Linked DNA regions of Homo sapiens. The protein of the gene in region 1 interacts with the protein of each later gene in a pairwise test. Each region holds a gene or a part of one and is shown in the gene's direction. Other genes may lie near its edges.

What was found. Proteins that work in one complex are often made in the same cells at the same time.
Region 2: the proteins of KRT40 (region 1) and DDX6 interact in binary tests that used the Homo sapiens proteins (3 or more experiments, as listed by UniProt).
Region 3: the proteins of KRT40 (region 1) and TXN2 interact in binary tests that used the Homo sapiens proteins (3 or more experiments, as listed by UniProt).
Region 4: the proteins of KRT40 (region 1) and DOCK2 interact in binary tests that used the Homo sapiens proteins (3 or more experiments, as listed by UniProt).

The regions. Positions count from the first base shown.
Region 1 is NC_000017.11:40,975,364-40,981,326, reverse strand, and holds the end of KRT40 (keratin, type I cytoskeletal 40), read left to right. Parts: exon of another isoform or gene 1-2; coding exon of another isoform or gene 3-26; exon of another isoform or gene 27-175; coding exon 176-337; exon of another isoform or gene 338-416; coding exon 417-542; exon of another isoform or gene 543-2,302; coding exon 2,303-2,523; intron 2,524-3,030; coding exon 3,031-3,130; 3' UTR 3,131-3,612; downstream 3,613-5,963. UniProt on the Homo sapiens protein: May play a role in late hair differentiation.
Region 2 is NC_000011.10:118,749,500-118,754,301, reverse strand, and holds part of DDX6 (probable ATP-dependent RNA helicase DDX6), read left to right. Parts: intron 1-2,204; 3' UTR 2,205-4,802.
Region 3 is NC_000022.11:36,465,832-36,470,230, reverse strand, and holds the end of TXN2 (thioredoxin, mitochondrial precursor), read left to right. Parts: intron 1-2,313; coding exon 2,314-2,427; 3' UTR 2,428-3,185; downstream 3,186-4,399.
Region 4 is NC_000005.10:169,642,638-169,647,988, forward strand, and holds part of DOCK2 (dedicator of cytokinesis protein 2), read left to right. Parts: intron 1-5,351. UniProt on the Homo sapiens protein: Involved in cytoskeletal rearrangements required for lymphocyte migration in response of chemokines. Activates RAC1 and RAC2, but not CDC42, by functioning as a guanine nucleotide exchange factor (GEF), which exchanges bound GDP for free GTP.

The DNA.
Region 1 (5,963 bases):
AGACGAAGAAACTGAGGCCCTTCTAAGTGGTGAAAAGAGATTCAGCCCAGGCAATCTGAATCAAAATCTCACACTTTTACCCACTGCTCCAAAAAACAGAAGTAGAATGCCATTGGATGTCAAATGGATTTTTCCCCACCATTCTGTGACATTCTTTACACCATCCCACTTTCAGGAAGTCAACTTGCTTCGTGAACAGCTTGGCGACCGCCTCAGTGTGGAGCTGGACACTGCCCCCACCCTTGACCTCAACAGGGTCCTGGATGAGATGCGCTGTCAGTGTGAAACGGTGCTTGCCAACAATCGCAGAGAAGCTGAAGAATGGTTGGCTGTTCAGGTCAGTACCCAGATTGAAAAAATGTCAGGCTTACAGACTTCTGCCTTTTTTGAATTCTCTAATGGTGTCTGTGTTTCAGACAGAAGAGCTGAATCAGCAGCAACTGTCCAGCGCGGAGCAGCTGCAGGGCTGCCAGATGGAGATCTTGGAACTGAAACGCACAGCCAGTGCTCTGGAAATTGAGCTCCAAGCACAGCAAAGCCTGGTGCGTGAGGCAAAGGCAGTGTCCGTTGTGTCACTGATAAGTCAGGCCCTGAGATGTTAAGCCCTCTTCCATATCCGAGGATCACATTTCCTTGCCTTTCCCGAGTACTGCCGTTTACCCAGCTATTAATAGAAGCAGAAGTGACAGGTCCACAGCTTGTCCTCTAAGATGCCTTACCTTCACTCCTGGGCTTGAGTCTGATGCTGCAGCAGCCTCCAGAGACAGGGAGGGAGAAGCAGAGCTGGAGAGAAACCTCCGGGCCATGGTCGCTTAAGCATTCTGGCAGGTTTTAATTCTCATTTGATTCAGGCCAGTTTTCCAGGCTCACTGTTATATCTAAAACAAAGAATCATTTTCAAACATTTCATCCTACAGTTTCCCAGGATCTACACTTCAACCTTATCCTTCACTGCACCACCCCCCACTCAAGCAACAGGAACACCATGCGTTCAAGATGACATGAACCAGTTCTGGTCAAGCACCACTGTGTGCATGTCATTAGGCCCTGCGGAGAACACCTAGAAGAACAATAGCTGAGCATTCATCCTGTGAGAGGCACTATGCTGATTTAAGGCTCACAGTAACTTTACCGGATAGATACCTTTATCCCATGACACAGATAAGGAAAACTGAGACTCAGATTAAGTAACTTGCAAAGGATGCAATTCTAAGAGGCAAACTTGGAAGCTGAGTTCAGCCAGTTGAATCCCAGAGTCTCTTCTCTCTCTCTTTTTAAATTTATTTTTATTGATATATAATATGCGTAAATTTTTTTTACGTAGATGTGATATTTTGTTACATGCATAGAATGTGTAATGATCAAGTCAGGATATTTAGAGCATCCATCACCTCAAGTATTTATCATTTCTATGTGTTGGGAGCATTTCAAGTCCTCCCATCTAGCTATTTTGAAATGCACAGTGTATTGTTGTTAACTGTAGTCACACTTCTCTGCTGTCCAACATGAAAACATATTCTTTCTGTCTAACTGTATGTTTGCACCCATTAACCAACCTCTCTTCATCCCCTTACCACACATATGCCAGTCCCAGCCTCTGGTATCCAGAGCCTCTTCTCTTAATAGCACTATACTACCCCTCCCTGCCAAGAGCCCAAACTCAATCTTTCCTCTCATATGTTGTGGATAGTCCTTAAGCTTCACAAATATGTCATGTATTGCTGTAGTCATAGTGGTGGTAGTGATAGTTGACACGTAGAACAGTGGCAGTATGGCTGGCACTGTTCTAAATGCTTTACGCACATTAACTCTTTTTTTTTTTTTTTGGACGGAGTCTCCCTCTGTCGCCCAGGCTGGAGTGCAATGGCATGATCTTGACTTACTGCAAGCTTTGCCTCCCGGGTTCACACCATTCTCCTGAGTAGCTGGGACTACAGGCGTCCACCACCGTACCCAGCTAATTTTTTATATTTTTAGTAGAGACGGGGTTTCACCGTGTTAGCCAGGATGGTCTCGATCTTCTGACCTTGTGATCCGCCCGCCTCGGCCTCCCAAAGTGCTGGGATTACAGGCCTGAGCCACCGCGCCCAGCCCGCATATTAACTCTTAATCTTCACAACCGTCTAATGAAACAGATACTTTGTATTCTCCACTATACAGAGAATAAAACTGAGACTCACAGAAGCTAAATAATTTGCCAGTGGTCACATAGCTAGAAAAGGGTAAGCAGGAATTTGAAAGTAGGCACTCTGGCCCGAGAGACTGCACTTCATGGTCCTTTGGACAATGTTTCCTCCCGCAGACAGAATCTCTGGAATGCACCGTGGCAGAAACCGAGGCCCAGTACAGCTCCCAGCTGGCCCAAATTCAGTGTCTGATCGATAACCTGGAGAACCAGCTGGCCGAGATCCGCTGCGACCTGGAGCGACAGAACCAGGAGTACCAGGTGCTCCTGGACGTGAAGGCCCGGCTGGAGGGTGAGATCAACACGTACTGGGGCCTGCTGGACAGCGAGGACAGCAGGCAAGTTCCACAGTTACTCATGAAATCCCCCAGAGTCACAAAGAGGCTGATGTAAAAGAATCCTGTTTCCCCAAAGTCTGGACAAGTTCAGACCTCCCCAGTGTGTTTAGGGATCTTCTTAAAAAAGTGCTGAAAAGTGGCTGAGGTTAAGAACATGACACTAGAGATATTTTTAAAATATTCTAAAGGCAGATTAATTATTAGTGTAACATTTCATGCTGGCATCTCCCTTTGTTCCTGTTTTCCACTAAAGGAAAATCAGGAATAGGCCTAAGATAACATTTGCAAAATCAAGAAAAAATATAAAATACTATTCAACTGCCACTGCTACAGTGAACATGAAGTGGCAATTCTGGGTGCAGAGAAGAAACAGGCTTCAGTCAATGCTATTGTGCAGAGTTTTTTTCAGAACATAATTTGTAGGGCAAATTTTGACACGGTTTTTCTGAGTTGCCATTTTATCAACATTCCCTTGTTAATCTTGGTTGAAAATCGATTTTTCCCCAGGCTTTCCTGTAGCCCATGTTCGACCACATGCACCTCGAGCAACACTTGTGAGCCATGCTCAGCCTATGTCATCTGCACTGTTGAAAACTGCTGCTTGTGAATGTTAAGGACAGCAGGTAGAGGAATCAAAGCCAGCAGCATCCTAGAAAGGAGATGGGGCTTCAACCAGGGACATCCAAACCGGAAGCACAAATCCAGGAGGCTCTCATATCCTGGAATTGCCCTCCAGGTATCCTCAGTCTTTCTGCTTTACTATTTCCTCTCCTTCCGGCTTATTTGTGGTATACTGGAAGCCCATAAAGCATTCTTGCTCATCTCCAAATAAAACGTGTTTTATTCCTTTAGCGTGGTAAATATAGCTCTATGGCTGATTACTGTTGATAGAATATTCATTTTATGGCAAGGAAATCATCTAAACCCATAACCATAGTTTCAATGTACATAAACCCAGGCTGAAAATATTTTTTAACTCCTCAAATACAAATAAATTAATGAACCCATGAGAAATGTCATATATCTTAGAAAATAGTTGTGTGTATCTTTCTGAGGAAAAATATTAGGAATAAAATATGATAAAATGTATTTTTTGATTATAAAAGTACTAGATTCTCTTTTTTTAAATTTGGCTCATTAAAAGGGAAAAGGTCACTTATGATTTCATCTTCCAAACAGCCATAGTCAATATTTTGGGGTACTTTCTTCCAGTTTTCTTTCTTATAATAGATTTTTCCACACAGCTATAATCATACTAACATATGCACACACTTGTGTAAACTTTCTTTCATTTATGTCATCTAAGCATTTTTAATTCTAATAAAAACATAAGATTGTATTGTAGCCATCACTTTTTTTATTTTTTATTTTTTTTTTGAGACAGAGTCTTGCTGTGTCACCCAGGCTGGAGTGTAGTCACACTATCTGGGCTCACTGCAACCTCTGCCTCCTGGGTTCAAGCGATTCTCCTGCCTCAGCCTCCCAAGTAGCTGGGACTACAGGTGTCTGCCACCACACCAGGCTAATTTTTTTTTTTTTTTAGTAGAGACAGGGTTTCACCGTGTTAGCCAGGATGGTCTCAATCTCTTGACCTTGTGATCCACCAGCTTCAGCCTCCCAAAGTGCTGGGATTACAGGTGTGAGCCACTGCACCCAGCCTGTAGCCATCATTTTACTGGTTGCATAATGTACCATAAGGTACATTGATCTGTTATTGGACATTTAGGTTATAAGAATAATTATTCTCATATATTTAAAAAACAAGGTAGAGAACTTCCAGAATGATGTATATTTCCATATTCCTCCTCCTAAAAACCCTGGAAATTACATATCAAATAAACATAAGAGGACTCTGAAAGGTAGAAGAAGAAGCCAAACCACCTAAAGATGTTGAGACTCCAGGAGTGACACTGTGGTGAGCTCCCTGGATTAGCTTTTTATCTCATATATCCCAGAGGGGGAGCTGGAGAAACCAACAACCAGAAACACCAACAGGTGCAGACAAAACAAACAAACAAACAAACAGAAAGAGCTTGCTCTGCTTAAAGAACCAGAAAAGAGGCAGCCTAGAAAGGCGGAAAACCTTTAGACAATAACCACTCAACTCAGCCAAACACCACAGAAAATATCATTTCACCCACCCATATCCACACAAGGAAAGGCCAGGTGGGGAGTCCAGACTTCTATCCTTCCCAGGCTGTAATAAGGCACTCAAACTTCACCACTGGGGTGGAATCAGGGAAGGCTAAGTGAGAGATCCAGGACTTTCATTCCTACTATGAGACATGGAAGCACTCCCTGTCCCACCATCATGGTATCAGTGGAGACCACACGGGAAGCCTGGACTTAACTCTACAGGCTGCAGTGAGGCTCTTCTTTTCTCCTCTGGGGTTAGTGTCACAAGAGTCCTACTGGACAGTCAGAACTCTTTCCCTCCTCCAGCAGTACCAAGGCCACCCCCATGCAGTGTCAGTGGAAGCTGCATGGGAGCAATAACAAGATATTCCTGCCCCTCCTGGCCAGGGTGGTATCAGCAGAGGCCAGGTAAGGAGTCTAAAATCCTCCCTCCCAGCAGTGATGAGGGGGGCTCTCCCCTTGGGTGTCAATAGGGGCAAAGTGGAGAGAACCTGTATTTCTACTCCCACCTGGTAGGAATGAAGCAGTGTCCCCCTTCCCCTGCCAAAACAGTGTCAGAGGAGACCTGCTAGAACATAAGATTAAACAGTATCCTGAATCTCATAACATAATGCCCCAATGTCCAGGTTTCAATCAACAATTGCTCTTTATACCAAGGATCATAAAATCTCAACTTACAGGAAAAAAGATGATCAACAAATTCAAACATCAAGAGGAAAAAGACGTTAGAATTAACTGACAAGGGTTTTTAACTTTTTATTTGTTATTTTTCTGGGTACATAGATGTATATATTTATGGGGTACATGAGATGATTTGACACAGGCATGCAATGTGTAATAATCACATGGAGAATGGGGTGTCCATCCCCTCAAGCATGTATCTTTGGTGTTACAAACATCCAGTTACACTATTTTACTTATTGACAATGATTTTTAAATAGTCATCATAAAAATGCTTCAGTAAGCAATGCTTCAATAAACTCTTACAACAAATGCAAAAATAGAGAAGACTCAATGAAGAAGATGGAAAGACTCCAGTGGAAATTTCAGAACTGAAACATACCATAGAACCAAAATAGAAACCTCAATGGAGATGGGCTTAACAGCAGAATGCAGGCCAGAGAGGAAAACATCAGGGAATTTGATGATACAATAATAGACATCATCCGACCTGAAAAACGGAAAAAAAATAGTGTTAAAAAGATAGAGTCTCAGGGAATTTTGGGGCTATATCAAACGATCTAACATTCATGTCAGTGGAGTTCTGTAAGGGAGGAGAAAAAGTGAAGCCAAAAACATTTGAA
Region 2 (4,802 bases), on another chromosome or scaffold:
ATGCCACCACGCCTGCCTAATGTTTTAAATTTTTGGTAGAAACAAGGTCTTGCTTTGTTGCCTAGGCTGGTCCAGAACTCCTGAACTCCAGCAGTCCTCCTGCCTTGGCTTCCCAAAGTGTTAGGATTATAGGCGCAAGCCACTGTGCCACTGTGCCTGGCCTTTTTTGACAGTTTTGTAGGGGGGATTTTTGTTGTTTTTGTTTTTTGAGAGTCTTGCTCTGTTGCCCAGGCTGGAGTACAGTGGCACAATCACGGCCCACTGCAACCTCTGCCTCCCAGGTTCAAGCGATTCTGGTGCACCTCAGCCTCCCAAGTAGCTGGAATTACAGGCATGCTCCACCATGCCCAGCTAATTTTTGTATTTTTTAGTAGAGTTGGAGTTTCACCATGTTGGCCAGGTTGGTCTTGAACTCCTGACCTCAAGTGATCTACCCGCCTCAGCCTCCTAAAGGGAGGCTGGGATTACAGGTGTGAGCCACCACACTGCCAGCAGTTTTGAATATGAAAGTATTTACATTTCTGAAAATGTAAAATGTTTTTAGCATTTACTCTTAATTTCTAGTAAGTACATTAATCACTCTGATAAAACTATCCATAATACCTTATTAGCAAATGTTTAATCAGATTATGAGGATGGCCATCTTTTTAAAATACCCACTCTGGGCCGGGTGCGGTGGCTCACACCTGTAATCCCAGTACTTTGGGAGGCCGAGGTGGGCGGATCACGAGGTCAAGAGATCGAGACCATCCTGGCCAACATGGTGAAACCCTGTCTCTACTAAAAATACAAAAATTAGCCGGGCATGGTGACACGCACCTGTAGTCCCAGCTACTCGGGAGGCTGAGGCAGGCGAATCACTTGAACCTGGGAGGTGGAGGTTACAGTGAGCTGAGACCGCACCACTGCACTCCAGCCTGGGTGACAAAGCTAGACTCCATCTCAAAAAAAAAAAAAAAAAAAAAGCCACTTGGGCTGGCTCAGTGGCTCACACCTGTAATCCCAGCACTTTGGGAGGCCGAGGTGGGTGGATTACCTGAGGTCAGGACTTCAAGACCAGCCTGGCCAACCTGGTGAGACCCCGTGTCCACTAAAGATACAGAAAATTAGCCAGGCATGGTGGCGGGCGCCTGTAATCCCAGCTAGTCAGGAGGCTGAGGCAGGAGAATCTCTTGAACCTGGGAGGCAGAGGTTGCAGTGAGCCGAGGTCATGCCATTGCACTCGAGCCTGGGCGATAAGAGTGAAACTCTGCCTCATATATAAATAACCCACTCTGATTTCCTAGGTAATAAGAGTGAAACTCCGTCAAATACATAAATAAAATACCCACTCTGATTTCCTGGACAACCTGTCTTCCCATCTTTTTTTTATTTTTATTAAGATGGGATCTCACTATGTTGCCCCGGCTGGTTTCAAACTCCTGGGTTCAAATGATCCTCCCACTTTGGCTTCCCAGAGTGCTGGGATTATAGGTGTGAGCCACCACGCCCTGCCTCTATCATCTTTTGGTGACTATTGGGCTCTAGTTAGAAATGCATGAAACAAGGCTCAGCTTTAAGCAAGGTAGGTTGTTTCAGTATTTCCTAAAGAAAATCTGATTTGACAAAGGATAGTTTCCAAGTTATAGGTGAACATCTTACCTATTTAAGTAACCTAATGTTACTTAAATTTTTTTTCTCTTTCTTTTTTAAATAGAGACGAGGATTTACCATGTTGGCCAGGCTGGTCTCAAACTCCTGACCTCAGGTGATCCGCCCACCTCAGCCTCCCAGAGTGCTGAGATTACTGGCAGGAGCCACCTCACCCAACCAATTGTTACTTAAATAATTTTTAAATTACTCTGTACTCTTTTTTTCCTTAAGTTAAACATCAAACACAAACTCTTGGACAAGCATGAAACTAGCCAATGTTTGCTAGTACTTTGGCAGAGTATTCAGTTTGTGTAAGGTTAATTTTTTTCCCCCGGATTTGTTACGAGTGAGGGCTGCCTGCTATCAGAACATTCACATTCATTCAGGCCCCCAATCTATCTCAGGGTTGCCTACCAGAAATTATTTAATCCTATAACCAGTAGATTCTATAGTAGGCACAGGGTTAGTAGAAACTACTAGAAAAGAGCATTTGGGATGAGGATTGTGAAAACCTATGTATCCTAGTTTGTGTTGCTTTCAGAATGTTAATTTTGTATTCTCTTCTTCTGTAGGCTTTGACAAATTACAAAAGGCTCGTTTGGATCTGTGACACATCGTTTTGGGGGGAATGCTCCTCTCTTTGTGGGTTTTTCATCTTTTATTTTGGAACTATGAAGACTTAAAAGAGCTCAGACATTTTCTTTTTTTAACTGGTGAAGAGAAAAAGGCTGAAAAGAAGGAATATACCTTTTTTGTTCCACTTGTTTGCACTGTGTGCTGACTGAACATTAGTTGCACTAACTGCTGGTTTTTAAAAAATGTTTTCTGGGGAAAGGGGACAAGGAAGGAAAAGAAAGAAGAGAAGGGGAGAAACCCTAAAAAGAGAAGAATCTTAATGAACACACAAGCTTGTCAATGATTTCAAAATTCTCCAACAGCTGACTCTCGTGCATTTCAACTTCTCCCTGATTCCTCATCCGTTTTTTAAGCCTGAAGAGCTTATTACTTATTTGTGCGAAGTGCCTTATGCTATGAGACCATTCAGAATATCATCTTTTAGACACAGCCCGAGGAATCAACAATAGTAACTCTTTCTTTCCGTTTTTTTTTCTTTTTCTTTTAAAAAATGTCTTCTTATTTTGGTTTCAGGTTGAAGTCTCTTCCCTTTCTACCCAGTACTCGAGCCCAGGGCTAGAAGTTGAAACTCACTAGTAATGTTAAACACCATTTTTTTTTTCTTTTTGGGGAGGAGTTGATATGCAACTGCAGTTCATCCGCACTGTAAATACATGTATTTAAAAAAACAATCCCAAGTAAAAATTTCTTCTGGGCTGAGTAGATAAAAAACATCATCGCTCCCAAAGGAAAGAGCAGTCTATCATTGCAGGAGCCATATGACAAGCCTTTGTGCTCTATAGCAGACACTAAAGACTGGGTTACATATGCCTCCAGTAGTAGTATGGCACTTGATGTGTAGACATGTCAGAGCCTTGGCCCTCTTTCCTCTGTGGCAAAGCGTGTCCCATAGAAAATTGGGTGTGTATACTTGTATAACTTTGTAAATAAGTTTTTTTTCTGGGTTCATATATATATATATATATACATATATATATATTTTTTTTTGGATGAAGGTTGCTGGGATTAAGGGGATTAGAGTGATTATGGGAGCAGCTAAAGATGAGAGGGGCTCAGTTTTACGCAACACTAAATTCTAGAAAGTACTTTGGCCTCGTGCTGTAGAGAGCAGATTTCTATGGTACCCTGTGTTAGTAAAGGGGCCCAGAAATCTGGGATGTACTGTTTGCTGCCACACTGTCTCATCTAGTACCTTTGGAGTAGGTTTACCAGAGAGAGCAAGGAAGCTTCAAAACATTGATAATTCAACATTTATTTTGAGAAGCTCTGATTTTGCTTCTTCCCCCTTTCTAAAAGTTTGAGGAATATTTCAAGCTCTGCAACAGGGGGCAAAGATTAATCTACCTTGCAGTGTAGGAATTCTATTGAGTGGCAGTGTCATTGAGCAGTATATATATAAAGCACAGATTTGCATTTCAGAATATTAGCCAGTACCAGCTTTGGTAATGTTAGCAGTTCTGGAGCTTAATTTTCTGTGGATCATTTCCTGTAGTGTGTAAATGTGTTGCCCTCTGCCCGCTTTGATACATAAACTTTTGCAGGAATGGGCAACCTGAGAGCTGTTAACTTTCATGCTACAGAAAGCTGCTTGCCATTCTCTTGCATTGTGACAAGAATTGTTACCTGTCATTTTGCACTGTAAATTGCTGGCAGATGCTTTACAGTCAATAGTGTTGCTTTAAATTGTGCCCCTCCCAACATGCTTGATGTTTGGCCTGATCTCCAGGCAAAAGGAGTGAGATGAATCAAAACCAGTGAACTTTTTTTTTTAATGTTTTTAATTCCCTTTTAACCCAGTGTACTAGGTCAATCAGGAGGCATCTGGAAAGGGGGGGAAAAAAGCAAAAAACAAAATTAAAAAAAATTGATTTCCATATTTTATTTTTCAAAACCCTAAAATATTACAAAATAAGTCCCGCATATACTTTAATGTTTTAACTCTTTTGGACAAAGGAATCAATTACTTGAAGTTGCTTTTTTGACTCTGCCTACTTCTGAGCAAACTATTTGCGACTCACCCACAATTCCTTGGAGATCAAAATCCTACAGATGCCTCCTGATGGGACATAGCCCTAACTCCTTAACAACTGTAGCAAGAACTGCACGGTACAAACCCAAAAAAGAACAAGCTCATCTATTTGGAACCCAAGCCTCATATTTTCTGTCCAGTCAATGTTGGTTACTAAATAGAAAACCTAATTAAGGAAGTAACTTTTTTCCAGGGAGGGGTGGGAGAGGGAATTTAAAAGGTGTCAACTTTTGACCAAAAAAATTGTGCCCTTGTACCGATGCAGCTCTCTTTCTCCCCCACCTCTTGCGAGATAAGAGGGATCATTCATGTAGAAGAAAAGAGTATAAATGCAATTCTGTATCTCGCTAGAGAACGTGTGGGTGACTAAACAAAAAGTGCAGTCTCCTTCACCAACTTTAGACTGCGTGGTGCCACATGCCTGTGGGTCCCTCTTAAAGCACAGACTTAAAATGGAAAGTATTACTGAAGTATAGCCTCTAATGAGGAGTGGCACTTAAACTAT
Region 3 (4,399 bases), on another chromosome or scaffold:
GTGAGGAGTGGGGTGCAGGGCCTGCCACGTAAAGTTAGTGGGTGAGGGCGGGATGGTCTGGCCTGCGTGCCTTTCCTAACTACCATGTGCATGGTTTTTGAACATTCTGAATCTTACTGGCTTCCAAGATGGGCCGTGGCAGGGCAGCACTGGGATATGTGAAGACCTGGTATGTTTGTGTGAATCTCTGCTCTTACTTTGTAGTTTAATTTGTATGTAAGAAAAGTCTGTGTTTATCTTGTTCTGTTTATTTTTATTTATTTATTTTGAGGGGGGGAACAGAGTCTTGCTCTGTCGCCCAGGCTGGAATGCAATGGCACAATCTCAGCTCAGTGCAACCTCTGCCTCCCGGGTTCAAGCGATTCTCCTGCCTCAGCCTCCCGAGTAGCTGGGACTATAGGCATGCCCCACCACGCCCGGCTAATTTTTGTATTTTTAGTAGAGACGGGGTTTCACCATGTTGGTCAGGCTGGTCTCGAACTCCTGACCTCAAGTGATCTGCCCGCTTTGGCTTCCCAAAATGCTAGGATTACAGGCGTGAGCCACAGCGACCGGCCTATCTTGTTCTGTTTAAATGGTTTTCTCAAATGCCCACGAATGCCAGGCAGGGATCCCAGGCAGCAGAGACCTCACAATGCCAGTCTGGTGGGCCACAGCCTCATCCACGTTCCACATAACCTATGCAGGTCCCTGAGGGAACTGAGTAAATGCTTCACAGACCAAGAATGTTGTCCTTGCCATCTGCCTGCAACCTGCTAATAAGCGTCAGGTTGTGTATGGCCAAGCCTCTCCTCTCATGCTGTCCAGTAGAAGTCCCTGAGTTTCTGGACCCTGTCACTCATCACAGCAGCAAGCTAATGTGCTCTCGTGGGGCCTGTGTTGGACTTTTCCTTGTGCCCTCTGTAGCCACTGTTTTTTGAATGCCCACAGTATGCCAGGCACAATGCCAGGTTCCTAAGCTTATTTGCCGGGCGCTGTGCTGAGCCTTTACTTGCGTTATTTCATTCAGCTTTCATGCCCTCTAATGGCAGTGCCCTTAGTATCTCCATCCTGCATCTGAGAACACTGAGGCTTAGTGACTGAGGGGCGTGCCCCAGCTCACCTGGCTGGTAGGAGCCGGATTGCGTCCGCCAGAACCTGAGCTCTGCTTTATTTATGTATTTATTTATTTATTTATTTATTTATTTATGAGATGGAGTCTCACTCTGTCACCCAGGCTGGAGTGCAGTGGTGCAATCTCCACTGACTCCAGCCTCCACCTCCCAGGTTCAAGCAATTCTCTCACCTCAGCCTCCCAAGTAGGTGGGATTACAGGTGCCTGCCACCATGCCCGACTAATTTTTGTATTTTCAGTAGAGACAGGGTTTCACCATGTTGGCCAGGCTGGTCTCGAACTCCTGACCTCAAATGATCTGCCCACCTCAGCCTCCCAAAATGCTGGGATTACAGGTGTGAGCCACCGCGCCCAGCCTGAGCTCTGCTTTATACTCAAATCTTTCTCTTTTTTTTTGAGGCAGGGTCTCTGTCACCCAGGCTGGAGTGCAGTGGCACAATCACAGCTCACTGAAGCCTCAGTCTCCCAGGCTCAAGCGATCCTCCTGCCTCAGCCTCCCGAGTATGGGAGTACAGGCATGTACCACCATGCCTGGCTAATATTTTGGGGGGGTTTAGTAAACAAAGGGTCTCACTATATTGCCCAAGCTGGTCTGGAACTCTTGAACTCAAGCAATCCTCCAGCCTCAGTCTCCCAGAAGGCTGGGATTATAGATATAAGCCACTGTGCCCAGCCTATACTTGAATCTTTAATGTTCATCCCAAACCCTAAAGGTAGACATTACCCCCATTTTATGGAAAAGGACACTGAGGCTCAGAAAGGTGCTGTGACCCGGCCAAGGCCCCCTTGCTAGTGAGTGCAAAGCCAGGACTCGAACTGTCCCCCAGCTTCTGTCTCCTCCTGGGCCAGGCTTCCCCTGAGCTCCTCCCTGCCCCCAGCCCTGGCCTGCAGCTGCAAGGGTTATTTTCATCTCTCCTGTCATTCCAGCAAAACCACTGGGCCAGTGAGTCAGTCTTGTGGTTAAGGGAGGAAGGGTACTGTTGGGAGCCCGCAATGGAAGACGTTTCTTCAGCGGGTGGCCCCCGGGCCCTGCAGTACCCCTGCACCGAGAGAAGAGCCATGTTCCTCTAGGCCTGCCCATGGCTTTGGGAAGTCAGTGCCCTGGATAAGCCACCAGCCTTCCCCACAAAGGCTCAGGAGTGGCAGTTGAGAAGTATTCACTCCCAATTCACTTGGACCCCCTTGTCCTCTCCACCCAGGTGTCAGCGGTGCCCACTGTGCTGGCCATGAAGAATGGGGACGTGGTGGACAAGTTTGTGGGCATCAAGGATGAGGATCAGTTGGAGGCCTTCCTGAAGAAGCTGATTGGCTGACAAGCAGGGATGAGTCCTGGTTCCCTTGCCCGCGTGGGACCCCAATAGAACTCAGCCCTTCCATGCCAGCCCTTCCTGCTGCCTCCCTCCTGTCTGGCTCCTGGGGCCCATGCTTAGAGCCCAGGCTCCAGCCCTGAGTGCTTCCGAGCTGGCGGACTGCCCAGGGGCCATCAGAGGATGGTGGTGCTGCTGCTGATCCGGGGACCGCTGTCTTCCCTCCCATACGCCTTTCATCCCTCCTTCTAGGGCCTATGGCAGTTCTCCCAGGATGTGTGGCGAGAGCCTGGGCCAGCCCACAGCGTTCCTAGTCAGGCAGCCACACCTTGGTCCTCATCTTGGTCCCTTCCAATCTGAAACCTCGTGCCTGGCTCGTCTGCCACCTACATTTCTCTTTCCAGCTGCTGTTTTGTAAAAAGAAAAAGAAAAAAGAAGCCCAAACTAGTGAGAGTAATATCTAATTATCTCATTTTTTGTAGGTCTGTGATAAAGAACTTAGTCATCCCTTCCACCTCCTACTGTGAAGAACAGACCCTGGGTCCCACACTGAAATCCCCTCTAGTCACCCATTCCCACCCCCCAGGGAGCTGCCTCCCAGGCAGGGGGTGCAGAAAATGATTGATGGGCTGGGGAACCCTGGAGAGCCTCGACTCCGGAAGTCTCAAGGTGCCTCCTCCTCTCCTTAGCTGGCCCGTTGGTTTTCTGAGCAGGGGGCTGAACTGTGAACAAGTCAGACAAATAAAGCAAGGGTCTGCACCATCTGCAATGTCACATCTGTGTGGGCTCAGAGCACTTGTCACCCTTTCCCAGGGGGCTTGTCCACTGTCCCCACATCCTCCCCTAACTCCACAACACTCTCTCCAACCAGCCCTTCCTGTTCACTAACATGCTTGTCAGCAGTGGCTGCTATTCTAAGGATGCCATGTGCCAGTCCTCGTGCCCTCCTAAGGCAAGAGGCTGTTGTCCCCATTACCCCGATGTAGACACTGTGGCTCATGGGATGCAGAGCTGGGGTTTCTATCCAGACGTGGTTGCCTCTGAAACCTGGGCTCCCACAGCTGATCCCCTTGACCCTTCTGAGGCCTCCCCAACTGACAGGGCTCCTGGCTGCCCCAGCAGGTGCCTGGCCCTGTGGGGATCAGGCTATCCTTCCCATGGGTGCCTGCAGGAACTTCTGGGCCTTGGGACCAGACAACCCCTCTTGGCCCCCAGCTCCCCTTGGCCATAGAGGAGTGTGCCAAGGGAGCCAGGCTTGCCAGTCAAGAAAGCCTTCCTTCCGTCTGCCTTGCTCCTAGGGCCAAGCTGTCATTAGGGCTCGGTTGCCTGGATGAGGCCCCAGCTTCCTGTGAATCAGGTGCTTGGCGGCAGGGGGATCCTGACACCCTACTCCGTGGCCCCAGGGATGCCATGGGGCTGGTATTGCTCTGTTCTCAGAGGCTCACCCTGTTCTATTAGAACTGTCTGCATTCTCCAGGGGCCCACCCAAGGACTGCCTTGGGAAGGCTGCCGAGACCGAGGGAGGAGAGGGGCCCGTGGCCTCTGAAGGACCCCAGACCCTGGGGTCTGTCACAAGCACATGGAGGGGACAAAACCAGCAACTGGCGTCAGTGGAGACGGAAGCTGGTGGAGTGAACATCCTGCAAAGGCCAAAAGCCCTGGTTAAGATGAGCAGGACCTGCCCAGACTCAGGAGGCACCTCCCAGGTACCTGGCACTGTTTTGAGGGTCTCAGCTCAGCACAGCCCCGCGGGAAGGCGTTGCCCTTCAGATTCCACCTGAGACCTGCCCCGAGAGGTTGAGGAGCCTTCCCCAGGTCACAAAGCCCCTGAGTGGCTGAGCTGGGATTCAAGGCCAGGCAGCCTTCCACACCCACCCCCAGGAACCACCCTCGCTGCCTCCTGTCATCTGATAGAAGGTGGCGTGTGTGTGATCTTCATCTCACAACAGGCAACAAGGCAAGTGGTGTCAGCTCATTT
Region 4 (5,351 bases), on another chromosome or scaffold:
ATTCTTAGGTGCCGGGGCTTCCTACTTTCAGATGCTTCAGCAATTTGGGTCTGTTTAGGAGTGCCTGCTGGGCTGGCTGTTTGAGTTCATGTAAGGAGATTGTCCTAATCCGTAGTTATATGGGCACCTCATTAGGCAGTGGACATCTTGCCCCTGACCATAATGTTTGCATTTGAATGAGCCTTGAAGACAGATTGTGTTTTCTAAGCTCTGCTTCCTCCTGAGATCAGCATCCTATTGCTGCTGTCTTTTGAGAGATGAAATGTAGTCACCATACTGCTCCGCTAATTTCTGGACCTTTGGATTTGTTTTTTTTTTCAATAGTCAATTACACATGGGTGCCACAGTCTGTGCTCTGCAGCATATGTTCTGCAAATGGGGAATGACAGTGCTTATCACCACGCAACTCCAGAGGAGTCTGGGCGGAGACACCACAAATGTTCCCTTTAATAGGCACTTTCTCCTTTCTTCCCCCTTCCCTTAATTGGTGTGAATTGAAAAACAGTCAGGCTGAGTTTGTGAGCTGCTTAAGTCTTATTCTGTTGTTAGTTCTCCTTGGAGAAAGTCATTCCTTGTCTCCCTGCACCCCACCAGGTCAGCTTCTGCTTTGGTTTAAAGTCATGGTGGCAGAAACTGAGGCTGGAGAAAGTATGACCGCCAATGTGGACACTTTCCAGAGCCCTCTCCGTTCATCACTCTAGGGCAGTGGTCTGCAACCTTTTCAGCACCAGGGCTGGTTTGGTGGAAGACAATTTTTCCACAGACTGATGGGGAGGTGGGGCGGGGCGGGAGGGATGGTTTCGGGATGAAGCTGTTCCACTTCAGATCATGAGGCATTAATTAGATTCTCATAAGGAGCATACAACCCAGATCCCTCGCGTGTGCAGGTCACAATAGGGTTCCTGCTCCTGTGAGAATCGAATGCCCCTGCTGATCTGACAGGAGGCAGAGCTCAGGCTAATGCTGGATTGCCTGCTGCTCACCTCCTGCTCTGCAGCCCGGTTCCTAACAGGCCACCAACCAGTACCGGTCGGTGGCCTGGGGAGTTGGGGACCCCTGTTCTAGGGCACTCAGTTCCCCTGACTGCACACGGCCCCTTGGATCACAGCCTAAGCTAAGATGATGGTTGGAGACATAGGTGGACAGTATGACGTGCACACTGTCACGGCACAGGGTCTGAATGGGGTAATAGGCATTTGTTTGGTTGAATTAAATGGTGCAATGCCAGGCCTAGAGACACCCTGACTGACATGGTGGGCTGCAGCAGCAGGGCCATCCCAGTGTCAGCTGAACCTTGAGGGTTTGCCTGGAAAGTGGGTTTTTGCTGCTGGCTTCCCTGGCGGTGGCAGTCAGGGAAGGACCCTTCTAAGTAGAACGAATAGCCAATATAAAGAGGAGGAAGCCTCTCTGATGTGTGGGAGGCCAGTGTGGCTGCAGTAGAGTAAGCAAGATGCAAAGCAGTAAGGAATGGATTCTCTGAGAGAGGTCATAGGGAGCAGTGCCTCGTAGGTATTGTGAGGTCCTTGGCTTTTACTCTGAATGGGGGAGGGGGACATTGCAGGATTTGGAGTAGAATTGTAGGACGACCTGTCTTAAGTTTTAAGAGGATTGAACATAGCAGTTTTATGGTGCATTAATCAGGGGGAATTAAATGTGGAAGGAGAGGGACCAGTTAGGCAGCAACAGTGATAACTCAGGCCAAGAGATGGCGGTGGCTTGCAGCAGGAGGGAGCAGTGGAGACAGTGAGATATGCTTAGATTCGGGATGTATGTGTTGTAGGTCAAGCAAATGGGGTTTTCCTCTTGGAATGGATGTGGGTATGAGAAGGAGAGAGGAGCCAGTGGTGACTCCGAGGTTTCTGGTCTGAATAGCTAGAAGAATGAGGGCTGCATCGAGGCCTTCCCTAGTGAAAACCTTGATCTAAGTAGTCATCGACATTGGCATAAATCATGCCATTGCCTTACCTTTTGTACCACGGTACTTTTTTTTTTTTTTTTAATTTTACTGACAGTTCTGGGATACAAGTGCAGAACATGCAGGTTTGTTACGTAGGTATACATGTGCCATGGTGGTTTGCTGCACCTATCTTCCCGTCATCTAGGTTTTAAGCCCCATATGCATTAGCTATTTGTCCTAATGCTCTCCCTTCCTTGCAACTCCCCCACCCCCTGACAGGCCCCAGTGTGTGATGTTTCTCTCCCCGTGGCCATATGTTCTCATTGTTCAACTCCCACTTATGAGTGAGAACAGGCAGTGTTTGGTTTTCTGTTCCTGTGTTAGTTTGCTGAGAATGATGGCTTCCAGCTTTATCCCTGTCCCTGCAAAGGACATGATCTCATTTCTTTTTATGGCTGCATAGTATTCCATGGTATATATGTTGACATTTTCTTTATCCAATCTATCATTGATGGGCATTTGGGTTGGTTCCAAGTGTTTGTTGTTGTAAATAGTGCTGCGATAAACATACGTGTGCATATGTCTTTATAGTAGAATGATTTCTATTCCTTTGGGTATATACCTAGTAATGGGATTGCTGGGCCAAATGGTATTTCTCGTTCTAGATCCTTGAGGAATTGTTTTCCACAATAGTTGAACTAATTTACATTCCCACCAACAGTGTAAAAGTATTCTTATTTCTCCACAGCCTCACCAGCATCTATAGTTTCTTGACTTTTTAGTAATCGCCATTCTGACTGGCATGAGATGGTATCTCATTGTGCATTTCTCAGATGATCAGTGGTGTTGAGCGTTTTTTCATGTTTGTTGGCCACATAAATGTCTTCTTTCTAGAAGTGTCTGTTTATATCCTTTGTCCACATTTTGATGGGGTTGTTTGTTTCTTGTAAATTTGTTTAAGTTTCTTATAGATTCTGGATATTAGCCCTTTGTCAGATGAGTAGATTGCAAAAATTTTCTCCCATTCTGTAGGTTGCCTGTTCACTTTGATGATAGTTTCTTTTGCTGTGCAGAAACTCTTCAGTTTAATTAGATCCCATTTGTTAATTTTGGTTTTTGCTGCAATTGCTTTTGGTGTTTTTGTCATGAAGTCTTTGCCCATGCATATGTCCTGATTGGTATTGCCTAGGTTTTCTTCTAGGGTTTTAAATTTTTATTTATTTATTTTTTTGAGACAGAGTCTCACTCTGTCTCCCTGGCTGGAGTGCAGCGGAGCAATCTCGGCTCACTGCAAGCTCCACCTCCTGGGTTCACGCCATTCTCCTGCCTCAGCCTCCCGAGTAGCTGGGACTACACAGGAGCCCACCACCACGCCCGGCTAATTTTTTGTATTTTTAGTAGAGACGGGGTTTCACCGTGTTAGCCAGGAAGGTCTCGATCTCCTGACCTCATGATCCGCCCATCTCAGCCTCCCAAAGTGCTGGGATTACAGGCATGAGCCACCACGCCCAGCCTCTTCTAGGGTTTTTATGGTTTGGGATTTTACATTTAAGTTTGTAATCCATCTTGAGTTAATTTTCGTGTAAGATATAAGGAAGGGGTCCAGTTTCAGTTTTCCACATATGGCTGGCCAGTTTTCCCAGCACCATTTATTAAATAGGAGATCCTTATTCCATTGCTTCTTTTTGTCAGGTTTGTCGAAGATCAGGTGGTTGTAGATGCGTGGTGTTATTTCTGAGGTCTCTGTTCTGTTCCATTGGTCTATATATCTGTTTGAGTACCAGTCCCATAGCATGGTACATTTACAAAGCCCTTGTGTCATCATGTTTAGCCCTCACAGACACCCTAAGAAAAATAACTTCTGTCTTCATTTTGCAGGTGAGGAAACTGAGGCATAGATCTTTGAGGTCTCTCTGAAAATTCCCTCTATTTTATGGAAGTTGCCCCTTTTCACCTTGTCTTTTAGTTAGGTAACTGCATGTCATCTTCCCCACTAGCTGGTACATTGTTGGAGGGCAGAGCTGTATGGAGGGTTAACTTTGAGTCCATTCAGCATCACTGCAATAGCAGGAACGTGGTAGGTCAGAGAAACTAATCATTATTGTAGCATAGGTCCCATTGAGAATCCTGTGACCGCTAGAAACACACTTCTTCCCATTAAAATATGCACATGTGCAGTTCTGCATTGTAATGTCGCCAAAACTCATTCATGGAAGCCAGTTAAGGTCCCTGGCAAAATGTGCTTATTTTACTCTGTAACTATTTAGTAAACAAATACAATAGGTATAGCCAAAGCATTCTGCCTAAGGTTTGAATTCTTGAAGCCAGGAGCTTGTCAAGAGTCGGAAAACAATTCTTACAGTCTGTTCAGATCAATTAAGTTCAGTAAGCCTGTCCTGAGTGATGGTCCTTAGCTGGGTGTTTGGGCCCAGAGATGAATAAAACAGTTCGGGAAGCTTACAGTCCAGTCATAACCTCTCTTTCTGTATGAGGCAGCAGAGAGCACCATTATTAGTACTAATGTCCCCATTGGACAGGTTGGGGGCAGTGCCCCCTTTGCTTCATGTTACTAGAGCTGCCATCATCCCCTTCATACTTCCTTGCAGCCTCATGTTGAATGATCTGGGCACCTCTGTAGAATGCAAGCTCTATGATGGCAGGGCCATGTCTGTTGTTCTTCTTCAGCACAGAGCAGGTGCTCAGCGGCTGCTGATTGGATGGATGAAGAGGTGGATTCATAGGTGGATGGATAGTTGTTGATTAGATGGATGGGTGGGTAGATGGATGATAGATGGGTGAGTGGATGCATGGATGGGTGGGTGGGTAGATGAGTGGAGGGGGAGGAGGATGGGTAAAGGGTAAGAGTTGGAGGTTTTAAAATTTTCTGGTGGCCTTATAGGATTCAGATGGACTGAGTTGCCCCATCTTGCCTTTATCTTCCCACCTCATCCATTTCCCTGTCAGGAGGCGAGGTCCTGTGAGAGCACAGCACAGCAATAAATAGAGTACTCTTGAACTCGTCTCCAAACAGTGGACTCCTGCAGATGGTCACTCTACCAAGCTCACCAGTTCTCCCTGGGACTCCATTAAGATGGCCCTGCCATTCATCCCTCACACATCAAGCTGGTTTCCCCCCTCTCTTCCCTGCTGTCACACCCTCTCCCCACCTCCTTGGGGGCTCTCAGTCCAGTTCTTCCCCTTGCCAGTCTCTGCCCCTCCCTCTCCCTCCAGTCTCACTTCCTTAGTGGGGCCTCTTTTTCCCTCTGAGAGTCCACAGCTGCTGTGACTTGCAGTTTAGCCTTTCACTTCTGAAGACAGCTCTTTGTTTCTTGTGTGTTTATTTTGTCTCTTCGACTAGATTTCACAGAAGCTCAGGAGAGCAGGAGCCACCCCCTTTCACCCCACTTTTCTAGCTGCAGGATCCTGCAGAGTGCCAGACGCTCTCTGCATTTGG